Linked DNA regions of Homo sapiens: regions 2, 3, 4 and 5 are each linked to region 1. The links come from fine-mapping of genetic effects on gene expression. A gene starts in region 1. Each other region holds a variant in brackets. All regions are shown on one strand. Distances are from middle to middle. Region 1 holds the start of ARL2BP (ARF like GTPase 2 binding protein). Region 2 overlaps RSPRY1 (ring finger and SPRY domain containing 1). Region 3 overlaps PLLP (plasmolipin). Region 4 overlaps CPNE2 (copine 2). Region 5 overlaps CPNE2 (copine 2).

Region 1 (5,000 bases):
GTCTTGAAACACTTGCTCTTGGACCCAGCACCATGGTGTGAGAAAACCCAAGAATCCCCTGAATCCTATAGATGGAGAGGAACTGAAACCCCCCAAACCCCGGCCCCAGTTCTCTGGCCAATGTCCACAACTGAGAGCCAAGAGCCAACACTAATTTGCCAGCCATGTGAGTAAACTCCTTGGAGGAAGCTCCTCTAGTCCATTCCAGCTGCCCCCAGCCGACACCAACTGGAATAGAGACTAGCTGGCCCTGCCCAAATTACAGATTAGTGAGCAAAATGGTGGTTTTAAGCCACTAAATTTTCAGGTGGTTTGTAACAGCAATAGATAACCAGAACAGATTAAATCAAGGTGTGTTCCTCCTCCACTCCATCAATGACTTAGGAAGGGTAGGCAAATTCATTTTGTCCAGAAATGTGTGGTATATAGAGAAAGTAGGTCATGAAGAAACTCTCTGAGTTTGCTGTAAGCTGTGTGACCAGGGCTTGACTAAACAACTCAGTCCAGTAATTCAGCAAATCTTTTTAAATGCCTATCTTCCACTTGGTGCTAAACAGAGTAACTCATAATTGATGTCACCTGACCGGGTGCGGTGGCTCACGCCTGTAATCCCAACACTTTGGGAGGCCGAGGCGGGCAGACCACCAGAGGTCAGGAGTTCGAGACCACGCTGGCCAACATGGTGAAGCCCTGTCTCTACTAAAAATACAAAAATTAGCCGGGTGTGGTGGCACGCGCCTGTAATCCCAGCTACTTAGGAGGCTGAGGCAGGAGAATCCCTTAAACCCGGGAGGCAGAGATTGCAGTGAGCCGAGATTGCGCCACTGCACTCCAGCCTGGGCAACAGAGCAAGACTCCCTCTCAAAAAATAAATAGGCCGAGCGCAGTGGCTCACGCCTGTAATCCCAGCACTTTGGGAGGCCAAGGCGGGCGGATCACCTGAGGTCGGGAGTTCAAGACCAGCCTGACCAACATAGAGAAACCCCATCTCTACTAAAAACACAAAAAAATTAGGCATGGTGGCGCATGACTGTAATCCTAGCTACGCGGGAGGCTGAGGCAGGAGAATCGCTTGAAACCGGTAGGCGGAGGTTGTGTTGAGCCGAGATTGCACCATTGCACTCTAGCCCGGGCAGTAAGAGCGAAACTCCATCTCAATAAATAAATAAATTAGTAATAATTTATGTCACCTTGGTCACAGCTGTCACACCCGACTGTGTCTTTGTAACCATCTTTGTTTCAGATCCCACGGATATCTATTTTAAGTCCATTCAAAGATGTCTGCTAGGCCGGTTGTGGTGGCTCACACCTGTAATCCTAGCCCTTTTGGAGGCCAAGGTAGGTGGATCATCTGAGGTCAGGAGTTCGAGACCAGCCTGGCCAACATGGTGAAACCCTGTCTCTACTAAAAATTCAAAAATAGCCGGGCATAGTGGCACGTACTTGTAATCCTAGCTACTCGGGAGGCTGAGGCACGAGAATCGCTTGAACCTGGGAGGCGGAAGTTGTAGCCAGCCGAGATCGTGCCACTGCCCTCCAGCCTGGGCGACAGAGCAAGACTCCGTCTCAAAAAAATAAAAAATGTCTGCTAACCCATTCTGACTGGCCACCTGACCCTCAGTTCATACCTTAAACCCCTCTAGTTCCTCTAGTCATATACCACACTTTGGCCATAAGGTATCATGCAACTAAAGAGACACAATGCTTAGTTGTCCAATCAAGAGAAATCAGCTCAAACGAATCCTTTTTCAAAGTTTGGCAGTTTTGAAGAGGCCTTTTCCTGAAAGGTATCTGATTCCTGATTGCGTGGCTCAAAATAGTTCTTCAATTCTCATCTTGTATAATTAGTCAAGAAACCAATTACTGCCGAGTAATCTTTATGATGCGAAGATTATAACGTAAATTACAGGACATCGACTTCTTGCGATGGGGCTTTCCTTCCACGAGGGGTAGGAACTGTCTTGAAATCAGACGTCAGCATCACCTGGTTCAAGGGATAAGGGACTGGCTCTCCAGCGACTTGGCAACTTACAAGCGCTCTTTAAACACGCCTTAAACTACTTATTTAATCCTCCACACTCAGGGAGGCGCAATTTATTCTCGAGTTGCGAGTGAGGAAATTCTGGCTCGTGGCTTCGATTCCTTCATCCGTACAATGGGGGCGACTTGAGACGGAGTTCCCACACAACGGGTGCTCGCCGAAGCGCCGCATCCCTCCGCACTCCCTTCCGGGACTTCCTCTCCCTGTCTTGCCCCGCCCCGGCATCGGTAACGCTCGCCTGTGATTGGATGCCGGCCGGCCGTGAGGCGGTGGAAGGGGTTGCGGTGGCCATGGTGACAGGAGGCGGGGCGCCGCGCCCCTCCGGCAGTCACCGAGGCCCGGACCTGCGGCGTCGGCGGCGCGCGCAGAGGGCCAGGCGGGCGTAGAGGCCGGACCGACGCGTGGCGGCAGAGGGTATCCAAGGCCGGACCTGGCGCGCAGGCGCTGACCCGACCTGGCAGTGAGCTGGCCGCGGCCTTGGCTGAGAGGCCTTAACCCCGCCGGGCGGCCGCGCCCTGCATGCGAGTTGGGCCGCGGGCGGGGTTGGAGCCTACTCGGGGCGACTGCGATGGACGCCTTAGAAGGAGAGAGCTTTGCGCTGTCTTTGTGAGTAGCTCCTCCAGGGCGCAGGCGACTTGGGGCCGGAGGCAGCGGGCGTTCGCCCCGGGGCCTGACCCTATAAAACAGGTGTCCTTAGGGGCCGGGCCGGGCCGGGCCGGGCAGGGTGGGGGCCGCCAAGGCGCCGTCCCAGCTCCAGGCCTTCCTTTTGTAGAGTACTAAGGCTGCAGGTTTCAGGCCCCGCAGGACAGGAGTGCGAGGCGGGTGTCACCGTTGATCAGCGCCTCCATCACAATCCCCAGCCGCCAACCCTCAGCTGTCAGCAAAGCCTGGAGGGGTTGAGCGCCCGAGGCCCCTCCACCCCTCCCTGGCCCCCGCCTCCCGGACTCCTGACCAAATGACCCCCCCCGGCAGGTGTTTCGCCCGTGCCGGGTTCATGCTCACAAGCAGACAGGTATGGGGTGATAGCTAAGAGCCTGGAGAACAAGTTTTTATTAAAGTGGAGTCATGACATTGAACGTTCATGTCACAAACGTGCCGAGTGTGTTTTCTTCTGTTTGGACTTACTAGATCAGTCAGTCATTCTTAATCGTTGAAGATGGGTGATGGGAAGTTCGTTTTGCTACTCTTTTTTCTCTTGTGCATGTTTGAAAACGTCCATACTAAAAACATTTTTTTAATGCATTATTTGAAATAGCACCTAATCCAGGCATGTTTTTCAGCTCCTCCGCCTCTGATGCAGAATTTGATGCTGTGGTTGGATATTTAGAGGACATTATCATGGGTAAGCTTTTAAGATACTGTTTTTAAGGACTTGCTTGTTTCTTTAAGGACATTGAAATCAATTTGGAGAGTTAATTTTAAAAAGAGAAAACATCAAGCTGCCTGCAATTTTTAATGTAGCACAATGTAATACTTAAGTAAAGGCTTACTGCAGTTTGTCTTAGAAACAAACAGCCCAGTACTCCTGAAAACATCTAATAAGCATAGATTCAGAGGCTGGAAGGGACTGACTCAGGCTAATAGGGCACCAGCAGTGTGGCGTTCTTCGCAAAACTATAGGAAATAATGATCTACTCTATTTCTTATGTAGGGTAAGAGCAATTTCAATTTTAGATAGTTTTGAGTTTTAACATTTTCATGCCATAAAACACATAAAACCAGGCCAGGTGCGGTGGCTAACGCCTGTAATCCCAGCACTTTGGGAGGCCGAGGTGGGCGGATCACGAGGTCAGGAGATCAAGACCATCCTGGCTAACACGGTGAAACCCTGTCTCTACTAAAAATACAAAAAAAATTAGCCGGGCGTGGTAGCGGGCGCCTGTAGTCCCAGCTACTCAGGAGGCTGAGGCAGGAAAATGGCGTGAACCTGGGAGGTGGAGCTTGCAGTGATCCGAGATCGTGCCACTTCACTCCAGCCTGGGCGACAGAGCGAGACTCCGTCTGGAAAAAATAAAAATGAAAATAAACACATAAAACCATAACCATAAGCACACATGGCCATAAAGAAAACAAGGTATTAAGCTTCAGCTGGTTCTGTATTTTCCTAGGTTTTGAGTTCCTACTTGTGGATGTATTTGGGCATCCATGAAACCTGCTAAGTAACAGAGAAGCAGTAACAGTCCCCAGAGGTTTAAGACAAGTATGTAGGAGGGGAAAACTTACATTTGAGAAAATTCTGTTGACTTTAAGTTTTATGAGAATTGAGAAAAGAACACTGTTATTTGGTGTTATTGGCTGTATGGCTTAATCCATTTAGAATGAAAATTACTGACCAAGTTTTTATACCTTCAGGTATAAAGGTTCATGCCCTTAACTCCTGAATATAGATGTTTCATCATTAAGCTCGTTTCCCATGTGGACTTGGGGATTTCTGGGGAATACTGAAGAATCCATTCAGTTCTCTTGCCTATTATACCCTATATGCTATGGGAAAATGAGCCTTCTGTGAGCCTACGGTATTTATCCCAAAGTCTGGGTCCTTTCTGAAACTTTCCTTTTATTTTTAGAAATAATCTATTCAGTTGTTAAAATTCCTTATTCCGGGATGGGTACGGTGGCTCACACCTATAACCCCAACACTTTGGGAGGCCAGCGCAGGTGGATTGCTTGAGTCTAGGAGTTCGAGACCAGCCTAGGCACCATAGGGAGAACCCTGTCTCAATTAAAAAAAAAAAATTCCCTATTCCCTATCATTTATTAAGTGTTCACTATGAACTAATCTATTTACATGAATTCTCATCTAAATTCCACTTCCAATCCTATATGATAACTACCATAAACCATTCTTATTTTCCAGATAAATGTGTTTATATGGGGGTTAGAGAAATTAAGTAACTTACCCAAGGTCACACAATTAGTAAGTAGCTGAGATGCGATTCGAACCCAGACGGGCTAGCCT
Region 2 (5,208 bases), 40 kb before region 1:
TTATCTACCCTCTAAAGCGAATCATACTCTGATCCCCACAGTAATGGCAATGTTGTTACTTCGACTCTGCTGGTTTAGAATGTGTTCTTTTAAAAAGCTATTTCCAGCTGGTCCTTGCATCATACTCCTACCTATATACTTCAGTCACATCCTTTTCAGTACAACCTCCAAATTTTGAAGACAGCCCGAGTGGTTTGGGGGAACCAAGAACATCTGTGGTATCACTTGGCCCAGCCATTGCTGTCTTAATAGTGAAAACGTCTGTTGCCTCTCATTTCCTTTATCCTTTTCTTTCTCCTGTCTTGTTCCATCCCATTCCATTCTTTTCTCTCCCTTCCCTTTGCCTCCTCCCTCTTTATATATATTTTATTACATATGATTATATATATATATATATATATATATATATCTGAAGACTTTCTGTCTCCATTTTTCTCTTTTTCTTCTATGTTTTCCCTGTAGCAGTAATCAAACTGGGAAAATAAAAAGAATTTTGCCATGAATCTGTCTAAAATAATGGAAATAGGCTGGGCACAGTGGCTCACACCTGTAATCCCAGCACTTTGGGAGGCCGAGGTGGGCAGATAGCCTGAGGTCAGGAGTTTGTGGCCAACATGGTGAAACCCCGTCTCTACTAAAAATATAAAAACTGGCTGGGTGTGGTGGCAGCACCTGTAGTCCCAGTTACTCGAGAGGCTGAGGTAGGAGAATTGCTTGAACCCAGGAGGTGGAGGTTGCAGTGAGCTAAGATCATACCACTGCACTCCAGCCTGGGTGATAGAGCGAGACTCCTCAAAAATAAGTAAATAAATAAACAAATAAAATAATGGGAGTAATATTTCTCTTCTAATTCCACTGAATTATAAATTTTGTTTATATTATTCCTGGTCAGTGCTCAAGGTATGAGGAATTAATTGTAACTAGCCAGATGTTGTGTAGAGACTACACACTAGCATAGTCTATTCCTTATGTGGCCTGTTCTCCAGCTGTCAGCCTGTTTTGTTTGTTTGTTTGTTTTTTTACTTTTTGCTACCAGCCCATGTAAGTCTCCTATTTCTAAATCTTTACTTCCTTCCAGAATCTAACCAGATTTTACCAGCTTCTTGAAGAGCTGGTTCTTTCATTAGGTTTTTAATGATAAACATACTTTGTGGGATGAGAATGGCCATCCATGAATTCCTGGAGGGCAGGAACTATTCCTTACTCATCTTTATTCTCCTAGTCCAGCGTGGTACCTGGCACAAGGTCCTTAGTCAGTATTTTCAGGCAAAGATAAATTGGTGCATCTTATTCTGAACTTTGTAATAGACATGTGCAACAAACTGATCATTGTGAAAATACAACTTTTGTGATATCAGTTTTCCTTTCCCAAAACAAAGCCTTGCTTACATAACAGAAACACTTTGCAACAACTTGTATGAATTCTGTCAGTTCTTGAGTGAGCTTCCAATGGGAAACTCTATCCTTTTATTCTCCTTGATATCAAATGGTGCTATCATATTTGTATCATAACTTTTTTTTAACAACAAACGTCTGTAATTATTTTATTTAAAACTTGTTAAATTATCCTATGGGTTTAAAGAAAGGAGTTAATTCATTTTTTTAAAGATTTTTCTCTTTTTAACACCTACCTCTTACACAGAAAGACAACTCTTTTTTTATGATAAAAGGAGCCCTTGAAAAAAAATGCACACATCCTTCTAATGTATTTCTATATAGACAGGAAAAACTATACATGTGGTTTTAAAAAAATCAATGATAACTCCTCTGGTCTATAAGAATATGGTTTGGCAATCAACTTTGTAACAGAATGATAAAAAGAAATTATTGATTGATTGCGAATTCTGTTATCCAAAGCTATCTCTTTGTATTGGAAACCTATAAAAATAACCAAAGATAATTCTTCATTAGAATCCTAATATCTATAAAATCAGACTAGGAAAATTTGAGTAATTAAGTGGTCAAGAATCTTTTATTCATTTTCCTTTTTCTCATTTTCTTTTAGAACTGCCATTGGATGTCCAGAATCCCCTGTAGTTGATAATGTTGGGAATAAGCTCTGCAACTTTCTTTGGCATTCAGTTGTTAAAAACAAATAGGATGCAAATTCCTCAACTCCAGGTTATGAAAACAGTACTTGGAAAACTGAAAACTACCTAAATGATCGTCTTTGGTTGGGCCGTGTTCTTAGCGAGCAGAAGCCTTGGCCAGGGTCTGTTGTTGACTCTCGAAGAGCACATAGCCCACTTCCTAGGGACTGGAGGTGCCGCTACTACCATGGGTAATTCCTGTATCTGCCGAGATGACAGTGGAACAGATGACAGTGTTGACACCCAACAGCAACAGGCCGAGAACAGTGCAGTACCCACTGCTGACACAAGGAGCCAACCACGGGACCCTGTTCGGCCACCAAGGAGGGGCCGAGGACCTCATGAGCCAAGGAGAAAGAAACAAAATGTGGATGGGCTAGTGTTGGACACACTGGCAGTAATACGGACTCTTGTAGATAAGTAAGTATCTGACTCACGGTCACCTCCAGTGGAATGAAAAGTGTTCTGCCCGGAACCATGACTTTAGGACTCCTTCAGTTCCTTTAGGACATACTCGCCAAGCCTTGTGCTCACAGGGCAAAGGAGAATATTTTAATGCTCCGCTGATGGCAGAGTAAATGATAAGATTTGATGT[T/G]TTTGCTTGCTGTCATCTACTTTGTCTGGAAATGTCTAAATGTTTCTGTAGCAGAAAACACGATAAAGCTATGATCTTTATTAGAGAATAGAGTAAATATGGAGTGAGTTTATGTTGCTAGCTACAATAGGAAATGGTTTCATGAAGGCTCACTGTTAATGGTACATGCCTGTCTATTCCACTGACCTCAGATTCAAGGTAAGTTGTTTTACCAAGAACATGGCTACAGGCAACTTCTCTTGGCAACATAAGGACTAAGGTCAAGGAGAGTTTTCATTATCCTTTATTTGATCCTTTATCCCTTATTTGACTATCTTTAATCCATTTAGGAAGCTTGTCAGTTGATACTGCAAGGCACACCTGTACCTGTTTTGTCTTTTCCTCTGCTTTGTCTACCTCTAAATACAAAATCATAGATTGAATAACAGTGAAATTAAAGGGCATCCAAGTAGAAAAAAACATTTAACTTAAGGTTGTATATTTCAGTAGTTAAGAGCACAAAGCTTAGAACCATGATGGGCCTAGCTCAAGTTCTGGCCCAGTGCCTTACTAACTGCATGACATTGGGTAAGTTACTTCTTGAAGCCTCAGATTCCTCATCTGTAAATGGGGGGATAATATTGTTCCCACAAGGATTATCATGAGATAATGTACATAAGGCATTCAGTGTGGAGCTTTGTACTTAACAGTTGCTCAGTAGATGGTAGTATTTTTTAAAAAGTTACTTATGTGTTCTTTTTGCTTCAGGCCCTGCTAGTAAATTTAAGTATATAAACATTTGATAATCGCATTTATAGAAACCCAGTTTCGTTTAGTTCCTCAAAAATTAAGCATAAAACAGAGTGTACCTGTGAATACAAACGAATTTTTAGAGCTGTATTAAACTTTTCCATAAAATACTGGAGCATTTGTTAGTCTTCGAGAAGAATAATTTTTTGGCCAGACACAATGGCTCATACCTGTAATTCCAACACTTTTGAGAGGCTGAGGTAGAAAGATAGCTGGAGGCCAGGAGTTCAAGACCAGCCTAGGCAACATAGGGAGATCCCATCTCTGCAAAAAAAATTTAAAAATTATCCAGGTACAGTGGCACTTGCCTGTGATCCCAGCTACTCAGGATTCTAAGACCGGAGTACTGCTAGAGTCCAGGAGTTTCCAGCTGCAGTGAGCTATGATCACACCACTGCACTCCAGCCTGGGCAATAGAGCAAGACCCTGTCTCAAAAATTAATTAATCAAAAAAAATTTTTTAAATCCCTTGTACCAAATTGTAATAAAAGTTATCCTTCCCAAATAAGGAAGTAAACCACAAACAATGTTAATTTAAGCTCATTGGAAAAATGGGTGCAGAATAGACTTTGAGAGAGAGAGTTTTTTTGTTTTGTTTTGTTTTTAAAGAGACAGGGTCTCACTTTGTCACCCAGGCTGGCGTACAGTGGCGTGATCATGACTCACTGCAGCCTCAGCCTCCTGGACTCAAACCATCCTCCCACCTCAGCCTCCTAAGTAGCTTGGACTACAGGCGTGTGCTACTGCACCTGGCTAATTTTTAAAAAAGTTTTTGTAGAGCCAGGTCTTGCCATGTTGCCCAGGCTGGTCTCAAATACCTGGACTCAAGCGATTGTCGAGCTTCAGCCTCCTTAAGTGCTGGGATTGCAGATGTGAGCCCCCACGCTTGGCCCCTTGCAATATTTTAAAAGAGAGTGACATAGTTATACAAACCTCTTTGTTTTTAACTTTTCTCAACATCGAAATCTGTGTTACTGTATATAAATCTACAACTGCTTCTGACTATTACAGAGTATTCCCTTGTATGCCTGAAAGTATTATATTTTGTTACATTTTCATCTGGTGATGGTCACTTAGGTTACTGCCAAATTTTTGTTCTTACAAACAGCACTGCAGTGAACAGCGCAAATATGCATTGATTTTTGGACCTGTGTAAAAATTTATCTACAACTGTTGGGTATATGCATACTTAATTTTATTATTGCCAGATCATTCTTCAGAAATACTTGCATCAGTCAATTATATTGTTTAAACAGGCAGCACCTAATGAGTACCTGAAATGACCATACTAATTCCCATATCACAAGGTTATTCTCTGGATTAAATGACTTAAGATGATAGTTTTTGGGGCTTTTTTTTTTTCCACACTAAAACAGAGACCCACAATATGTAAACAAATAAGTGGTGAGTTCTTAAGCAGTTAGAATTGTTTAATGGAAAACATCTCATTATTGAAGTTCCCCTGAAGGACTTTTTAAAGATTTCTGGGATCACACCACTGAATTAAGGTGTATAATGCCACTTTGGAGCAATGTCTAGAATGTTAAGTAGTTCCTTAAGTTTGGTTTTGTTTCTTGTAATACCATTTTATGAAGTCTAAGCATGTAGTGGTATTTCCAGAAGAAAACTTCAAAATGAAGATGCGTATATAGGCCCTTGCTTCCATAAGTCCTCAACCGGGATTGTCGTCTCTCTTCCTGGCATTTCTCTGAGGTAAGTATGAAGGTGATGTTG
Region 3 (5,000 bases), 22 kb after region 1:
GAAGTGGCAGGTGGGGCCTCGAGCTTGGAAGTCAAAAGCTGTGTGGCTGTGTGATGCTGACCGAGTACCTTCCCTGCTCTCCGAGGAAGATTCTGGGTTTTGTTCACTGCTGTATCTTCAGTGCCCAACAGTGCCCGACACATAATATACGCTAAATACACAATGTGCTTAGGAACTAACAATCCTATTTCTTCAACCATGACAGAGACCAGAACCCTGCCCTGCACAGGCACCGTGTATTAAAAGAGGAAGCAGTGGGGCTGGGCGTGGTGGCTTATGCCTGTAATCCTAGCATTTGGGGAGGCCAAGGTGGGAGGATTGCCTGAGCCCAGGCGTTCAAGACCCCATCCTGGGCAATATACAGGGAGCCCATCTCTGCCAAATACTTTAAAAATTAGCCGAGTGTGGTGATGGTGCACCTGTGGTCCCAGCTACTTGGGAGGCTGAGTGGGGAGGATCGCTTGAACCTGGGAGGTTGAGGCTACAGTGAGCCATGACTGTGCCACTGTACTCCAGCCTGAGCAACAGCAAGACCCTGTCTCAAAATAAACGAAAATAAATAAAATTAAAATTAAGTAAAGTTAAAATTAAATTAACAAAATAAATTAATAAGAAGCAGGTGTCCATCTGTGAACTGCCCCTGGCCTTGCCTCCCCCCAACCCAAGTAAGGGGCTCAGCCCAAAGTGGGAGGCCCAGGGAAGGTGTCCCGCTCTCCAGGGCTCAGCACCTGCTCCTCCCCACACTGGGGTGAAGCTCCAGGGATCCACCCCCCAACACACAGCACCCTGCCAGCCTCTGCTGCCCGTCAGCACTCTCACCGCCGCAAGCAGGCCAGGTGAGGGTAGGCAGGTGAGGAAGCCAGGGCGGAGCCACAGGGCCTTGCCCGCTGTCACACACCAAGCTGGGGGCAGAGCCCTTACGAGTGTGGACCCAGGGCAGGATGTCTCAGAACAACACCCTGCCAGAAACAGACACACCTGGAGAGGCCACGAACCCCCAGAGCTGGGGGGAGGCCAGTGTTCTGAAGGAGAACAAACACTTCGGGCAGCACGCCTCCGTCCCTTCTCCAGGTGAGAACTGGGTGCGTCCAAGATAAACAATTATTTTTTCATTTAAAGCCAATTCCTCATGGGCCTCCGCTGCCACTGTGTTGCCAGCTTCCAACTAACTAAAGGAAAGTCAGAAAATGCAATGAACCAAAAATCAAGAAAAGACCAATTCAGGTTTCCACTATCATATGCCTATCAATCACCTGTCCCATGACTCACAGCCTAGGTCACAATAACCACTCAATGCCTTCTCGCTCTGTGCCAGACACATCTCATTGATTCCTCCATCACCAGACCCTCCTCAAATGTTCTATCTGTTATTCCCATCTTCCAAAGGGAATCTCAGGAGGCAATGTGCCTGAGGTCACTGTGGGTAAAGGACAGGGCAGGAGGCCGGGTGCAGTGGCTCACACCTGTAATCCCAGCACTTTGGGAGGCTGAGGCAGGTGGATCACTTGAGCTCAGGAGTTCGAAACCAGCCTGGACAATATGGAAAACCCCATCTCTACCAAAAATATAACATTTAGCTGGGCATAGTAGCATGTGCCTGTGGTCGCAGATACTTGGGAAGCTGAGGTGGAGGATCAATGGAGCCTGGGAAGTCAAGGCTGCAGTGAGTCATGATGGCGCCACTGCACTCCAGCCTAGGTGACAGAGACCCTGTCTCAAAAAATAAATAAAAATTTTAAAAGGATAGGGAAGGACAGGAACCCAGATCCGTGCTTCCTTGGAACCTGCGCTACTATGAGTTATTTAGTGAAGTGTAAAAAATGAGGACACTTCAGCTGGCTCTAGGAGCCAGTCTGGGCTGGGCACCCAGGCTCCCCCCACTGCCCGCCGCCATCCCTGCCCCGCCCTGTGCTGTGCTCCAGCCCCACCCCTGGTTTCCAGATCAGCGAACACAGCGTCCAGATGAAGCCGGTGGATAAGGACTGGGAATTTCTGGCGTTCTTTCTGGCTGTGCTGCCTGGCTCTGTGCCTGCGGAGCTGCCTCGGTTTCTGCCCTAGAACAAGGAAGGTTCGTTCCTGCATTTGAACCAGACAGACTGGTTTCTCCTGGTTCCTGAGCCCCCAGCCCAGTCCCCCAAGAGAGACCCTGCTCGGAACAGGGCACCCAACACAGGCCTCGCTGTGGGCATCTCTCTGGGTTAATATATTTAACAAATGTCTATGGAGAAGGGGCCAAGAAAGATCTCACTGGCAAGGTGATGATAAGCAAAGACCCAGGGAGGTGAGGGAGGGGCAGGGAGGGTGCCACGTGGGTATCTGAGAACAGAACTCTATGCCTTCACCCCTGGGCCCTGCAGGTCTCTCTTGCTTACATGTTCGTCTGTCCCCGTGTTTCTCTGGAGGTGTCTACATGAATATCTAACTGTCTCTCTCCTACACACACAGGCAAACCACATCCTCCCCTCCTTCCCAGCTCTCTGAGGTCCCTGCCATGCCTCCCCAGACAGGTCCTGCAGATAAACAAAGGGAACTGTCTGGAAATCTCAAGGGCACAGGGCCTTTTTTTTTTTTTTTTTTTTTGCTTTTCTGAAAACCTGAATAATTTGGATTAGGAACTTTTTTTTACATATGAAGACTACAGTGTCAAAAACGACCTTTGCATCTTCAAAGAATTTCCAAACAATTGGGTAACGAAGAGATGTTTTTGTTAAAACCACCTGTGGCATCAGAGAGAAGATTC[G/A]TCACAAATGCCCAACCAAGAGGCACTCCTTGCTGCAGTGAAACCCTGTTATTACAGTTTCCCCAGAAGCTGCCAACACTGACAGCCAGACAGGCCAGGTTCCTGCAGGGTGCATGCCCTTCACTGACTCTGAGGGAAGTTTTTCCTCATCTCTTATTGTGGTTTGCAATGTGTTCCCCAAAATATGTTCAAGTTCTAACCCCTAGTACCTGGGAATGTGGCCTTATTTGAAAACAGGCTCTGGCCAGGCGCAGTGGCTCATACCTGTATTCCCAGCACTTTGGGAGCCTGAGGTGCATGATCAGTTAAGGACAGGAGTTTAAGACCAGCTTGGCCAATATGGAGAAACCCATCTCCAGTAAAAATACAAAAATTAGCCGGGCATGGTGGTGGGTGTCTGTAGTCCCAGCTACTCAGGAAGCTGAGGCAGAAGAATCACTTTGAACTCAGGAGGCAGAGGTTGCAGTGAACTGAGATTGCACCACTGCACTCCAGCCTGGGGGACAGAGTGGGACTCTGTCTCAGAAACAAAACAAAACAAAACAAAACAAGGCCTGGCATGGTGGATCATACCTGTAATCCCAGCACTTTGGGAGGCTGAGGCAGGTGGATCACCTAAGGTCAGGAGTTCAAGACCAGCCTGGCCAACGTGGTGAAACCCTGCCTCTACTAAAAATACAAAAAATTAGCCAGGCATGGTGGCATGTGCCTGTAATCCCAGCTACTTGGGAGAGGCAGGAGAATCGCTTGAACCTAGGAGACAGAGGTTGCAGTGAGCCGAGATCGCACCACTGCACTCCAGCCTGGGCAACAAGAGCGAAACTCCGTCTCAAAAAAAAAAAAAAAAGAAAGAAAGAAAGAAAAGAAAAGAAAATAGTGTTTGCAGACATGCTCGAGTTAAGGGGGGTTATACTGGATTGGGGGCATCTCTAATCCAATGACTGGTGTCCTTGCAAGAGAAATGTGGACACAGAGACCACAAGGGGAGACCATCGTGTGAAGACAGAGGCAGAGACGAGAGTGATGCATTTGTAAGCCAAGGCACACCAAGGCTTGCTGGTCACCACCAGAAGCCAGGAGGGGGACATGGGACAGACTCTCCCTCAGAGCCCCAGAAGAAAGCAACCCTGCCAACACTTTGATTTCAGTAACTGAGACAATATATTTCTGCCACCCAGTTTGTGGAACTTTGTTACGGCAGCCCCAGGAAATGAATAGGTTTTTCTCAGCTGCTCTCTGAATCTGTGGATGGGTGTCATGACCTTGTTCACCTGAGTGACACTGGCATTGGTTCTGTTGGAGGGGTGGCCTATCGACTCCTTGAATTCACGCTCTGGCCCTGCCAACTTAACTAGCTGTGTGACCTCAGGCAAGTGGCTTAGCCTCTCTGTGCCCTTGTCTTCATCTTCCTTCATCTTTGAAATGTATCTACCCCCTAGGGTGGTTTTGTTTTGTTTTGTTTTTGAGACAGGGTCTCACTTTGTCACCCAGGCTGGAGTGCAATGGCACTATTGCAGCTCACTGCAGCCTCGAACTCCTGGGCTCAAGTGATCCTCCCACCTCAGCCTCCCAAGTAGCTGGGACTACAGACATGCACCACCACTCCTAGCTATTTTTAATTTTTGTAGAGGTGGGGTCTCCCCATGTTGCCCAGGCTAGTCTAGAACTCCTAGGCTTAACTGATCCTCCTGCCTGGGCCCTAGGGTAGTTTTGAGCAAGGAACTTAGACCAGCAACCAGCATAGGCTTAATATTCAACATGGCCAGGTGTCATGATCACCCTGAGGGGTTAAGAACATGGGTTTTCAAGTCAGGCCCTGGGCCTACTTTCCTGCATTCGCCACGGTGTGTGAGGCTCCTCAGGAGGGTGAGGCCTCACTGAGAGAATGACAGTATCCACATTCAAGCACCAGGCACAGCCCAGGCAGAGATAAGGACCCACGTCAGTGCCAGCCCCACCCACCTGACAGATAAGGCGGTGGTGCTCCCACAGGAGGCCCCAGAAATCCAGCCCAGCCCTCAGATCTCCCTTGGAGCTGCACTCCCTCAGCTCCTCATAGGCTGAGGGGCCTTGGGCAGACCCCTTCACCCCCTGGCACAATGGAAGCAGGGAGGTTTGGCTTGCTGTTCTCTGAGATTTCCCGCAGAGGTCAACACTCCTGAACATGGGCCTCCTCCAGGGGCCCCAAAGGGAGGGGTTTGACCAACCCTATGGACTCTGAGCTGTCATGCAAAGATGGTCACCCCAACTCTTTTCACCC
Region 4 (5,000 bases), 120 kb before region 1:
AGTTCAAGACCAGCCTGGCCAACATGGGAAAACCCCATCTCTACTAAAAATACAAAAATTAGCCGAGCATGGCGGTGCACGCCTGTAGTCCCAGCTACTCAGGAGCCTGAGGCAGGAGAATCACTTGAATGTGGGAGGCGGAGGTTGCAGAGCCCAGATTGAGCCACTGCACTCCAGCATGGGTAACAGAGCAAGATTCTGTCTCAAAAAAAAAAAAAAAAGTTATAGGCCGGGCGCGGTGGCTCATGCCTGTAATCCCAGCACTTTGGGAGGCCAAGGTGGGTGGATCACGATGTCAGGAGATTGAGACCACCCTGGCCTCTCACGTGAGGCCTCTCACCCACCCTCTCACGGTCTTTAGTAGAGACCGTCTCAAAAAAAAAAAAAAATTATAAAATAAAATCAAATAAATAAAAAATAAAAGCTCTTGGTCCCCAGGGGCTGGGTCTGAGAGCAGATGGGACTGGGGAGACAGCTAGGTCAGGACAGAGATTCCCAAGTAGGATACCAGGAATCTTAGGTTCTAGTACTGGGTCTGCTACTGCTGCTGTGAGACTTTGGGCAGGTACATCTCTTTCAGGGCCTCAGTTTACCCATCAGTGGGATGGGAACAATAATCCCTGCCTTCCTCCTAGGAGGGCCATAGCAGCTCAGACAGCATATAAAGCTGTGATTTCTGTGCTCATCTCAGAAAAAAATATGTCTAGAGAGGGCCCCAGGCCATAAGCTGGGTGGGTCACAACCCGAGGTGGAGGGGGAGCCATTTGCCAGGTGTATAAGGAGTGGAGTTGCCTGCACTAGAGGGTACAGCCTCCATCAGTGGGGCAGACACACTTTCTCCTTTTCCCAGCAATCACAGAAGTCTTCCTGCAGGAGGCAGTTCAGGAGCTATCCAGGCCAGCTAGGCAGATGCTGAGGAGAGGCACTACCCAAACAGAAGACAGAGGGTTTGCTTGGGGAGTTGAGAGGGGCTGGAGAGCACCTCTTGGGGGACAGCTCTGGGGTGACCGTGCTGAACCCACCCCAGGTCATGTGCTACGACTATGACAATGACGGGGGCCATGACTTCATCGGCGAGTTCCAGACCTCAGTGTCACAGATGTGTGAGGCTCGAGACAGCGTCCCGGTGAGATGGGCACGTGTACTGTAACCCCAAGACCTCAGCAGGGCTGGGGGAAGGGGCACCGGGTCTTGGGTCAGGCAGCCTGGGGCTGAGATCCCCCTTCTGGCTGCATGACCTTGAGCAAGGCATTCAATCTAAGACTCAGTTTCTCCATCTGTCAATGGGGGCAGAGGATTTGGGTGGGGATTGAATGAGATGATGCAGGCGAAGTGCCCAGCATATAGTGAGCAGTCAGGAGCTATCCATTTAAGTCATTCCGTGATGTTGGGCCCTCAGCTGGACAGTTTGGGGGTGCGTTATCTGGGGAGGAGGGAGGCAGATGCTGATCCTGCTACCATTTTTGGGTGTGGACATCCTGGGAGGCTCCCTGGAGGAAGCATGCTGCCCCCATTGTCAAGCCTGTGGAAGGGATTCTAGGGCCAAGGAGGAGGATCTGTTTCCAAAGAAGCCCCGAGGTGAGTGTCTCTTTCTTTTGCGTTGCCCAGCTGGAGTTCGAGTGCATCAACCCCAAGAAGCAGAGGAAGAAGAAGAACTATAAAAACTCGGGCATCATCATCCTGCGATCCTGCAAGGTGAACCAGCGTGGGCAAGCACGAGCCAGGGGCCAGGTTTCAGGCCACACAGAAGGGACAGACAGAGCACTGGATCTGGAGCCAGCGAGGCCTGTGTTCAAATCCCGGCTCTGCCACATCCTGGCCCTATGGCCTTCTGAGCTTCACCTCACCAGGCCTCAGTCTCCTCATCTGTGGAATGGAGATATTAACGAGGCAGAGCATGTCCAGGGTTACTCTTCTCTCACATTCCTGTGTGGAGGCCAGGGAAGGCACGAGCTGACCTTCCAGGGCCTGTCCTGGTGGGAGAATTGTCATTGCGAGTTGCTGCCGCCCACGGTGGGCATGCAAGGGGCAGAGGACATTGGGTGGGGACACCCTGTCCTCTCTGGCATCAGCGTCACTGTGACTCCCATGGTACAGCCGGGGCCACTGAGGCCCAGAAAGGCAATGAAGTTCATGTCAGCAGTGGCCAGGCTGTGGGTGGGGGCCAGAAGACCTGGTGGGCAAATAACTGCTGGATCTGGCAGAACATTAAGGAAGGCAGCCTGGGGCAGGAGAGCAAGAGACCTGGGCTCAGGGCCTGACAGCTCAGGAGTCTGGCCGCTGCTCTCCACCAGCAGGTGGATCCCAGACTCCCACCTTATTTGGAGCCTCGTCTGGCTAGGGTTTACACGAACATTCAGTGGTGTCACGACAAAAAAGCACTCCGTTAAAGGTCAAGATGTCAGGTTGCAGCCTTGTGATGGATGGTCCTTGTTTCTGAAGTTTCCATCATTCACATCACTTTTCACAATTTCTGGCACCTGCCTTACTTATTTTTTTGAATCAGTCTTTCTTCCCTGTATTATTGTTTTTTGTTTTTGTTTTTGAGACAGAGTCTCACTGTGTTGCCCAGGCTGGAGTGCAGTGGCGTGATCTCAGCTCACTGCAACCTCCGCCTTCCAGGTTCAAGGGATTCTCCTGCCTCAGCCTCCCAAATAGCTGGGATTACAGGTGCATGCCACTACGCCTGGCTAATTTTTGTGTTTTTAGTAGAGATGGGGTTTCATTATGT[C/T]GACCAGGCTGGTCTTGAACTCCTGACCTCAAGTGATTTGCCTGCCTTGGCCTCCCAAACTGCTAGGATTACAGGAATGAGCCACTATACCTGGCCTGTTTCTTTTCTCTTTTTTTTTTTTTTTAACTTAAATACATTTATTTAGAAAGAGATTATTAGAACTCTACCAAAATTAAAAGATCTGCCTTCTTTGCCAAAAAGAGACAAAGACCATCAAAACAACTTCTAGAGGAAGGCCTTGAGCTGGAGGCCTGCTCTTTCTCTTTGTTAAAAAGGTAGATTAATAAGGGCCAGGAGAAGGTAAGTACCTAACAGTGACAAATTGAGACACTCTGTGTCAGGTAACTGACACTGGGCCCTGGCACCCTGCCTGGAACCAGCATGTGTCTGTGTATCTGTGGGGTGTGGGGGTCTCTGTGAGTCCCCCACCCATTAGGAACCATTGCACTGAAGGCTTTGTTATAGAGAGATTTGGGTTTTGTTGTAATTAGATCAGGCCCATCAGCTTTTTTTGACCTCCTTGTCCCTACTGAGGTTGCAGGACATAGAGCAACAACTCCCCCATGGGGAGTGTGACCAAGTCAAGGGGACCCACTGACTCATCCGCTTTCTTCCAGATAAACCGAGACTACTCCTTCCTTGACTACATCCTGGGAGGCTGCCAGCTCATGTTCACCGTAAGGCTCTCCCCGCTGGCTCCCTCTGCACCCCCATCCCAGTGAGGGTCCTCCCTGAAGACTTGGGCCACTAGTGCAGCCAGAGGGACTTAGGGTAGACTTCAGGAAGGACTTCCCTGGGGCAAAGAGTGTGTGCGGCCTAGTGAGGAGGGCATAAGTGGGCTGTCTGGTCCTGCTGGGTGTGCCTGAGTTGGGGCTTAACTACAGGTCAGAGCACAGCTGCACAGCTTTCAGTCTGGTGGCTACACTCCTTCTGCGGGTGGAGGAAAACAAATTCCTCCTCACTGGCCACAAGGCCTTCAGCGATCCCTGCCTCCTTCATCTGCAGCCTCCTTCCTCCTTGCTCACTGGGCTCTAACCACACTCTTCCTCTGTTTGCCCAACATGCCAAGCTTTGCTTCATGTTAGAACTTTGCATTTGCTGTTCCTTCTGCATTTGTTGTTCCCTCTGCCTGAAACACTTCCCCAGAACCTTTGCATGGCTGCCTACCTGCCATTTTTCAGGCCTGAGGAGGTAACGGAGGTCACCTTCCAGGGAGCCCTCCCTCCCTCAATGCCTTGCTGCTCCTCTGTCATATCTTCCTATTTTCTTTCTTTTCTTTTCTTTTCTTTTCTTTTTTTTTTTTGAGACAGCGTCTCATTCTGTCACGTGGTCTAGAGTGCAGTGGCACGATCTCAGATCACTGCAGCCTCCACCTTCAGCTCTCAGTTGATCCTCCCACCTCAGCTTCCTGAGTAGCTGGGATTACAGGTGCATGCCATCATGCCCAGCTAATTTTTGCATTTTCTGTAGAGATGGGGTTTTGCTATGTTGCCCAGGCTGGTCTCAAACTCCTGGGCTCAAGCGATCTGCCCACCTTGGCCTCTCAAAGTGCTAGGATTACAGGCATGAGTCACTGGGCCTGGCCCTCACTATTTTCCTATTTTCTGGGCACTTGCCGCCCCGAGATTCATATGCATTTGTCGCTTCTCCCTGATCGTCGCACCCACTGGAATGTGAGTGCTTTTAAGTGTGGGCACTTTGTTTATTTTGCTTCCACTCCAACCCCAGCATATCACACAGTAACTGGCACATAGCAGGTGCTCCATCATTTCTCGTTGGAAGAATGAACTGCCACCTTGCCTGTGGCCTGGAGTCTTTGCCCCACAGACTCTGTGCCACTCATCCTGGCTTTGCTTCCTCACCCCAAGGGAGCCTCAGGCCCAGAAGGGAGGAAGCTGCTGGGGTGCCACGCTCTGCCCACCTCCCCATGTTGTCTCACCGTTCCCCATCACCACCCCTAGATCCTAATGGGAAATGGAGGGCATCACAGGATGCCATGGAGTCAGAGGATTGGCCTTGCTGACTTCTGACCCTGCTGCCCACCACTGCCCCCTCCCCTGCACAGAGGCCAGGCCCTCCTGTTCCTCCTGCACGAGTTTGTTCATTCAGCGAACTCACACTGACTGCCTCCTTTGTGCCGGGCTCTAGGCTGTGTCCCTGCAGCGGTCCCTCAAGGACTAAGACATGCTGCCCCTGACCTGGGGGAGTGACCCTCTAGCCATGTGAGGATTTGGATGGGTGGCCCCTTCTCTCCTACCCCACAGCAACT
Region 5 (5,208 bases), 150 kb before region 1:
GCCAGGCACGGTCCCGATCTGAGAAGCCCTCAGCTCAGGGTCAGGGTGCCCCCAGCCTGATGGAGGTCTCTGTCCCTCTCCCCTCCCCTGAACCTTATTCATAGATGGCACTGGGGCTACCGAATCAGGAGCAAAACACCTTGAGGACCCAGCTCCTTCCCCCTTGCAGAATATGGCCTCAGGGAGTGGAGGTGGGATCTCCCCCAACCCTGCCAGACACGGTGGTGTGGGCTCTGTGGGAGCTGGGATGCCAGGTCACCCTGTGATCTTGGCAGGCAGCATCTAGAAAAGTCCACAATCACACATCTCCCCACCTCCCTGTCCAGAAGGGAGGACATAGGGGTCCCACAGTGCCTGAGGACAGAGCCCAGGTTAGAGGCGCCTCCTGGCTCACATCCCAATGTCTTCTGCCCTCATTGGGCCACTGGACCTCGGCTGTCACTCCCATGGCAGAGTCAAGAAGACTGCTGTTCCATACCCTGGAATATTTCTTTCTTTCTTCCTTTTTTTATTTTTTATTTATTTATTTTTTGAGACAGGATCTTGCTCTGTCACACAGGCCGGAGTGCACTGGTGTGATCTCAGCTCACTGCAACCTCCACCTCCCAGGTTCAGGCGATTCTTGTGCCTTAGCCTCCCAAGTAACTGGGATCACAGGTGCACACCTAGCTAATTTTTGTATTTCTAGTAGAGACGGGGTTTTGCTATGTTGGTTAGGCTGGCCTTGAACTCCTGGCCTCAGGTGATCCACCCACCTCGGTCTCCCAAAGTGCTGGGATTATAGGCATGAGCCACTGTGCCCGACCATGGAACATTTCTTACTTATCTGGCCACACTTGCTCTGAGGTCTGCAATGAGACTGACTAGTGAGATTGTGTCACCATCCCTCCTCACTGCTGCATCTCCTGGTTGTATTTTTCTTGGGGCATTTGCCACTCTTTAAAACCATCTTCTTTACTCATTGGTGCACCAGCTTATCTGCCTCCCTCCCCAAAGGGTGTCAGATCCACAAAAAGGCAAGAGCAAACAGTGTCTGTCTTGTTTAGGGCCATGTCCCAGCACTTAGAACAGTGCCTGGCACATTGTAGGTGCTCAGTAAATCCTTGTGTGAGGAATGACTGCACCTGCCCCTCTTTGCAGCCTCCTGTTAAATGAGTCTGTGATGTTGAGTGATGGATCCTGGGAGAATTACGAGCTTGCCCTCTTGAGTCTCTGGAGGGATCTCTGGCTTACCATACTGAGTGCTGGAAGGAGCATGGCCTTGCTGACAGCTGGATTTCAAACTTGTAGCCTACAGAACTGTGAGAGAATCTAAGCCATCCAGTGTGTGGTGCTCAACTAGCCCATGGCCAACCAGAGTTTGAAACCCAGTAGCTCAGCTCCCAGCATTCACTGCACTCTTACAATACACTTTTCTCAGGTTGGGCATGTCTCTGAAAGACTGATGGGAGAGCCGGGCGTGGTGGCTCACACCTGTAATCCCAGTACTGAGGGAGGCCAAGATAGTCAGACCACTTGAGCCCAGGAGTTCAAGACCAGCCTGGGCAACATGGCAAAAACCCGTCTTTACCAAAATAAAAAATAAACAAAATTAGCTGGGTGTTGTGGTGCATGCCTGTAGTCCCAACTACTTGGGAGACTGAGGTGGGAGGATTGCTTGAGCCCAGGAGGTCGAGGCTGCAGTGAGCCATGATTGTGCCACTGTACTCCAACCTCGGTGAAACAGTGAGACCATGTCTCAAAAAAAAAAAAAAAAAAAGACTTGGGGTCCAACCAAAGGAAAGAGGGATTGCAGGAGTTGTCTGCTGGGAGTTGGGCATATTCCCTCCTGTGTTTTAGAGAGGGGACAGCCAGGGCACATCAGGCAGGCCAGATATCCTCAGCTCCTGATAAGACACAAAAGCCTGCAGGGATACAGTAGAGTTGTAGGGAGAATGGGCTTCTGAACCACACTAGGCATGTCCACACCACAGGGCCTTTACACATGCTGGGGAACAGGTAGAGGAAACAGCGCATGCAAAGGCCCTGTGGTGGGGACATGCCTAGCTTGGTTCAGGAGCCCATTCATTCATTCATTCAAAAATATTCACTGAGTACCTGCTGGGCACCAGCTATGGCTGGGATACAGCCATGAACGAGAGAGACCAATGCCTTGCTCTCCTGGGGCTCCTGGTCTATTAACATCCCAGCTCAAATGTGGCCTCCTCCACACTGCCCTATCACAATCACTTCACCCTGCTTTATTCTCTTTATGACATTTTCCACTCTCTGAGATTTCCTGCCCTTGTCATTTGCTCACCTCTCTGTTCCCCCAACTCCATCCCGAACTCCTATGCCCAGAGCCTGAGTGTGTCTTGATCATGGTTGCCCCTCCAGCACACAGCAAAGTCCCTGGTCCAGAGGAACTGCTTAAGAAACATCTGTTGAACAACCAAATGGATGGCTGCATGGTGAGGGAAGCTCTCCTGGAAGGTGGAGACCCAAAGTCCCAAGTGAAAGAGGGATTACATCTGTGCACAACCCTCTTCAGTGTACCAGCTTTTCACTGCTGCCTTAAGAACATCATGAAGAAAGTAGTGG[G/A]GACAGCTCTAGTTAGCAGCAGCTCCATTTCCTGTATGAAGAAACTGAGGCTAGAGAGGTTAGGACACATGGCCCAGGTTGCATAGGGAATGGGTGACTTTCTCCAGCACACCTCAGTCCCTTGGGTGGGCAGGCAGTGGCAGCAGGTGACGTCCCACCCAGGGGACCTCACATCCTCCACCTCCCCAGCCCCCAGTCTTTCAGTCCTAGGCAAATCCACCTTCTCTCAGACGTACAACTTTCCCCATTCCCTCCTCCATGGGAGTCCCCTGCCCTCTGAGCCTGGCCAGATCCACTCCCAAGGTCCCCTAAGTACTCAGAGTCTCCGGAGAGCCACAGCACTCCGTGCCTATCCCCATGTGGAGCTTCCTGGGAGGCCGGAGGGGAAGGAGCTGAGGCCCAGGAGGGAGGAGTGGCAGGAGAGGACAAAACCCAGTCCCTAGACTCACAGGAAGTACAGTGGAGGCTGCCTCTCAGCCTGCTAGGTCAGCCCCTATAAGTGACACAAACCTTCCAGTGCAGGATGAGCTGAACCTGGGGCCTGGGAGGGTGGGGGTGGGGGTGTCCCAAGGGAAGCCACCTCCCCTAAGAGCCAGAGCTTAGTGATTAAGCGGGCACTACAGAGAATGACCTCCCTCTGAATGTGGTCTGGTGGAAGCTGGGGGTCCCCAGGGGGGCCTCAGGGCCAACCCCTGCTGCAGCCTCCTCGCCATGCTGTCTGCATCTGTATTTATCCCCGTAATGGCCTGGCTGCCTGTTGGAGTGTGGTGTCTTTGGAGCACAGCAGCCGGTGCCGTAGCCTCGGTGCAGAAATGATTTGTGTCAAGGTGCCGCCCCCACCTGGTCAGGAGTGCCAGCCTGCTCCCCGGGGGCTGCCTGTCGCCTGGCAGGAGCTGGTGCAGCAATGGGCATGCGGCAAGGGCCCCAGAGAATAAGGCTTGTGGCTGGACCCTGCCCACCAGAACCAGGATGCAGGATGTTGGGGCAGCCAGGCTGTGGCCAGGGTTCCTGTGTGGCTGGAAAGTGGGGCCAGATAAACTCTAAAGTCTTTTAGCTCTGAGACTCAAAGAACTCATGACTCTGAAATCCCAGAATTCCCAAATTCTGGAATTCTGTGAACCTCTAGTCCCGGGCCTCTACAATTCCAAGATGTTATGGTTCCTCTTCCTCTCACCTTTTCACTCTTCCTCATTTTCAACAAACTTGTGTCGAGCTTCCATTCTGTGCCTCTGGGTGTTGGGAGCAACGAAATGGAAACAGGGTTTGGTTCCATCTTTAAGCTCCAGTGAGGGCGACGCTTCTAAGCCAATGGTTACAGTATGCTGATATTGTAAGTGATTCCCTCTCAAGGACCAGGGAAATAGGAAGGGCTTTGTAGAGGAGTCCCTGGATTATTGGTTTTGGTGTTTTTTGTTTTTTGTTTTACCACATTGAAGTGTAACATGAAATAGAGCAGACATTCTACATGGACCAGTCAATGACTGTTCACAAACCAACATATCTGGGTCACCAGAACCCAGATCAGAAACAGACACGACCAGCACCAAAGCCCCCGGTGTCCCCTTCTTGTCAGTAACACCCGTCCACGTGTCCTACTGCTATCCTGACTTCCAGCAGCATAGATTTGTTTTGTCCATGTTTAAGGGCACCTAAGTGAAATCATATAGGATGACATACTCCTTTCTCTCTGGCCCCCTTCACACAGCACGTGTGAGACCCATCCGTGTTATTGCTACCTGTGTTCTTCCTTCAAGTTGGCTGTATGTGGTCTGCTGTGTGTTCATTCACCAGTTATGTCTCCCTTCTTCCAATCATGGGGGTTTGGGTGGGGAGTTCCAGTTGGGATTATTTGGATTAGCACTGCCATGAACATTCCTGTGTGTATCTTTGGGTGAACATACGTGAGTGTTTTCGTTGGGCACTAATGTTTCTCCTAAGTGGTTGCACCAATTTCCACTCCCTCTGGCAACCTGTGTGTGTTCCAGTTGCTCTGCATTATTGCCAACACATGGTATGGTCAGCTTTTTAAAATTTTGGCCGTCCTGGGGGTGGGGGTGGGTGCATAGTGCTTTTTTTTTTAAGACAGTTTCATTCTGTTGCCCTGGCTGGAGTGCAGTGGCGCGATCTCAGCTTGCTGCAACTTCCACACCCCACCCCCATTCAAGTGATTCTCCTGCCTTAGCCTGCTGAGTAGCTGGGATTACAGGCATCCGCCACCATGTCCGGCTAATTTTTGATTTTTTTTTTTTTTTTTTTTTGAGACGGAGTTTTGCTGTTGCCAGGCTGGAGTGCAGTGGTGCGATCTCGGCTCACTGCAACCTCTGCCTCCTGGATTCAAGCGATTCTCCTGCCTCAGCCTCCCGAATAGCTGGGACTACAGGCGCGTGCACCACGCCCAGCTAATTTTTGTATTTTTAGTAGAGATGGGGTTTCACCATGCTAGCCGGGATGGTCTTGATCTCTTGACCTTGTGATCCACCTGCCTCGGCCTCTCAAAGTGCTGGGATTGCAGGTGTGAGCCACCATGCCCTGCCTAGTTTTTGTGTTTTTAGTGGGGATGGGGTTTCACAATGTTGGCTGGGTCTCGAACTCCTGACCTCAAGTGATCCGCCCACCTCAGCCTCCAAA

What was found. PIP is the estimated chance that this variant, and not a neighbour inherited with it, causes the effect.
Region 2: its variant is fine-mapped to the expression of ARL2BP in whole blood (INTERVAL, PIP above 0.99).
Region 3: its variant is fine-mapped to the expression of ARL2BP in whole blood (TOPMed, PIP above 0.99).
Region 4: its variant is fine-mapped to the expression of ARL2BP in whole blood (TOPMed, PIP 0.95).
Region 5: its variant is fine-mapped to the expression of ARL2BP in whole blood (INTERVAL, PIP above 0.99).

The regions. Positions count from the first base shown.
Region 1 is chr16:57,242,759-57,247,758 of GRCh38, forward strand. It overlaps ARL2BP (ARF like GTPase 2 binding protein), which reads left to right and starts at 2,501. Exons shown (of 6, transcript NM_012106.4): 1 at 2,501-2,647; 2 at 3,322-3,383. The coding sequence starts at 2,610. LOC124903697 (a long non-coding RNA gene) reads right to left here. Exons shown (of 2, transcript XR_007065082.1): 2 at 3,057-5,000. RefSeq lists silencers at 2,220-2,599, 2,690-2,899.
Region 2 is chr16:57,202,499-57,207,706 of GRCh38, forward strand. RSPRY1 (ring finger and SPRY domain containing 1) reads left to right here. Exons shown (of 15, transcript NM_133368.3): 2 at 2,006-2,510. The coding sequence starts at 2,161. Among named protein-coding and RNA genes, the nearest start is that of RSPRY1, 19 kb to the left of the region's middle. The variant T/G (reference allele first, on the strand shown) is at 2,686.
Region 3 is chr16:57,264,305-57,269,304 of GRCh38, forward strand. The region is part of intron 1 of PLLP (plasmolipin); the gene reads right to left. Among named protein-coding and RNA genes, the nearest start is that of PLLP, 18 kb to the right of the region's middle. The variant G/A (reference allele first, on the strand shown) is at 2,741.
Region 4 is chr16:57,120,066-57,125,065 of GRCh38, forward strand. It overlaps CPNE2 (copine 2), which reads left to right. Exons shown (of 16, transcript NM_152727.6): 8 at 1,028-1,126; 9 at 1,609-1,695; 10 at 3,349-3,408. Among named protein-coding and RNA genes, the nearest start is that of CPNE2, 30 kb to the left of the region's middle. The variant C/T (reference allele first, on the strand shown) is at 2,732.
Region 5 is chr16:57,094,959-57,100,166 of GRCh38, forward strand. All of the region lies in intron 1 of CPNE2 (copine 2), which reads left to right. Among named protein-coding and RNA genes, the nearest start is that of CPNE2, 5.0 kb to the left of the region's middle. The variant G/A (reference allele first, on the strand shown) is at 2,581.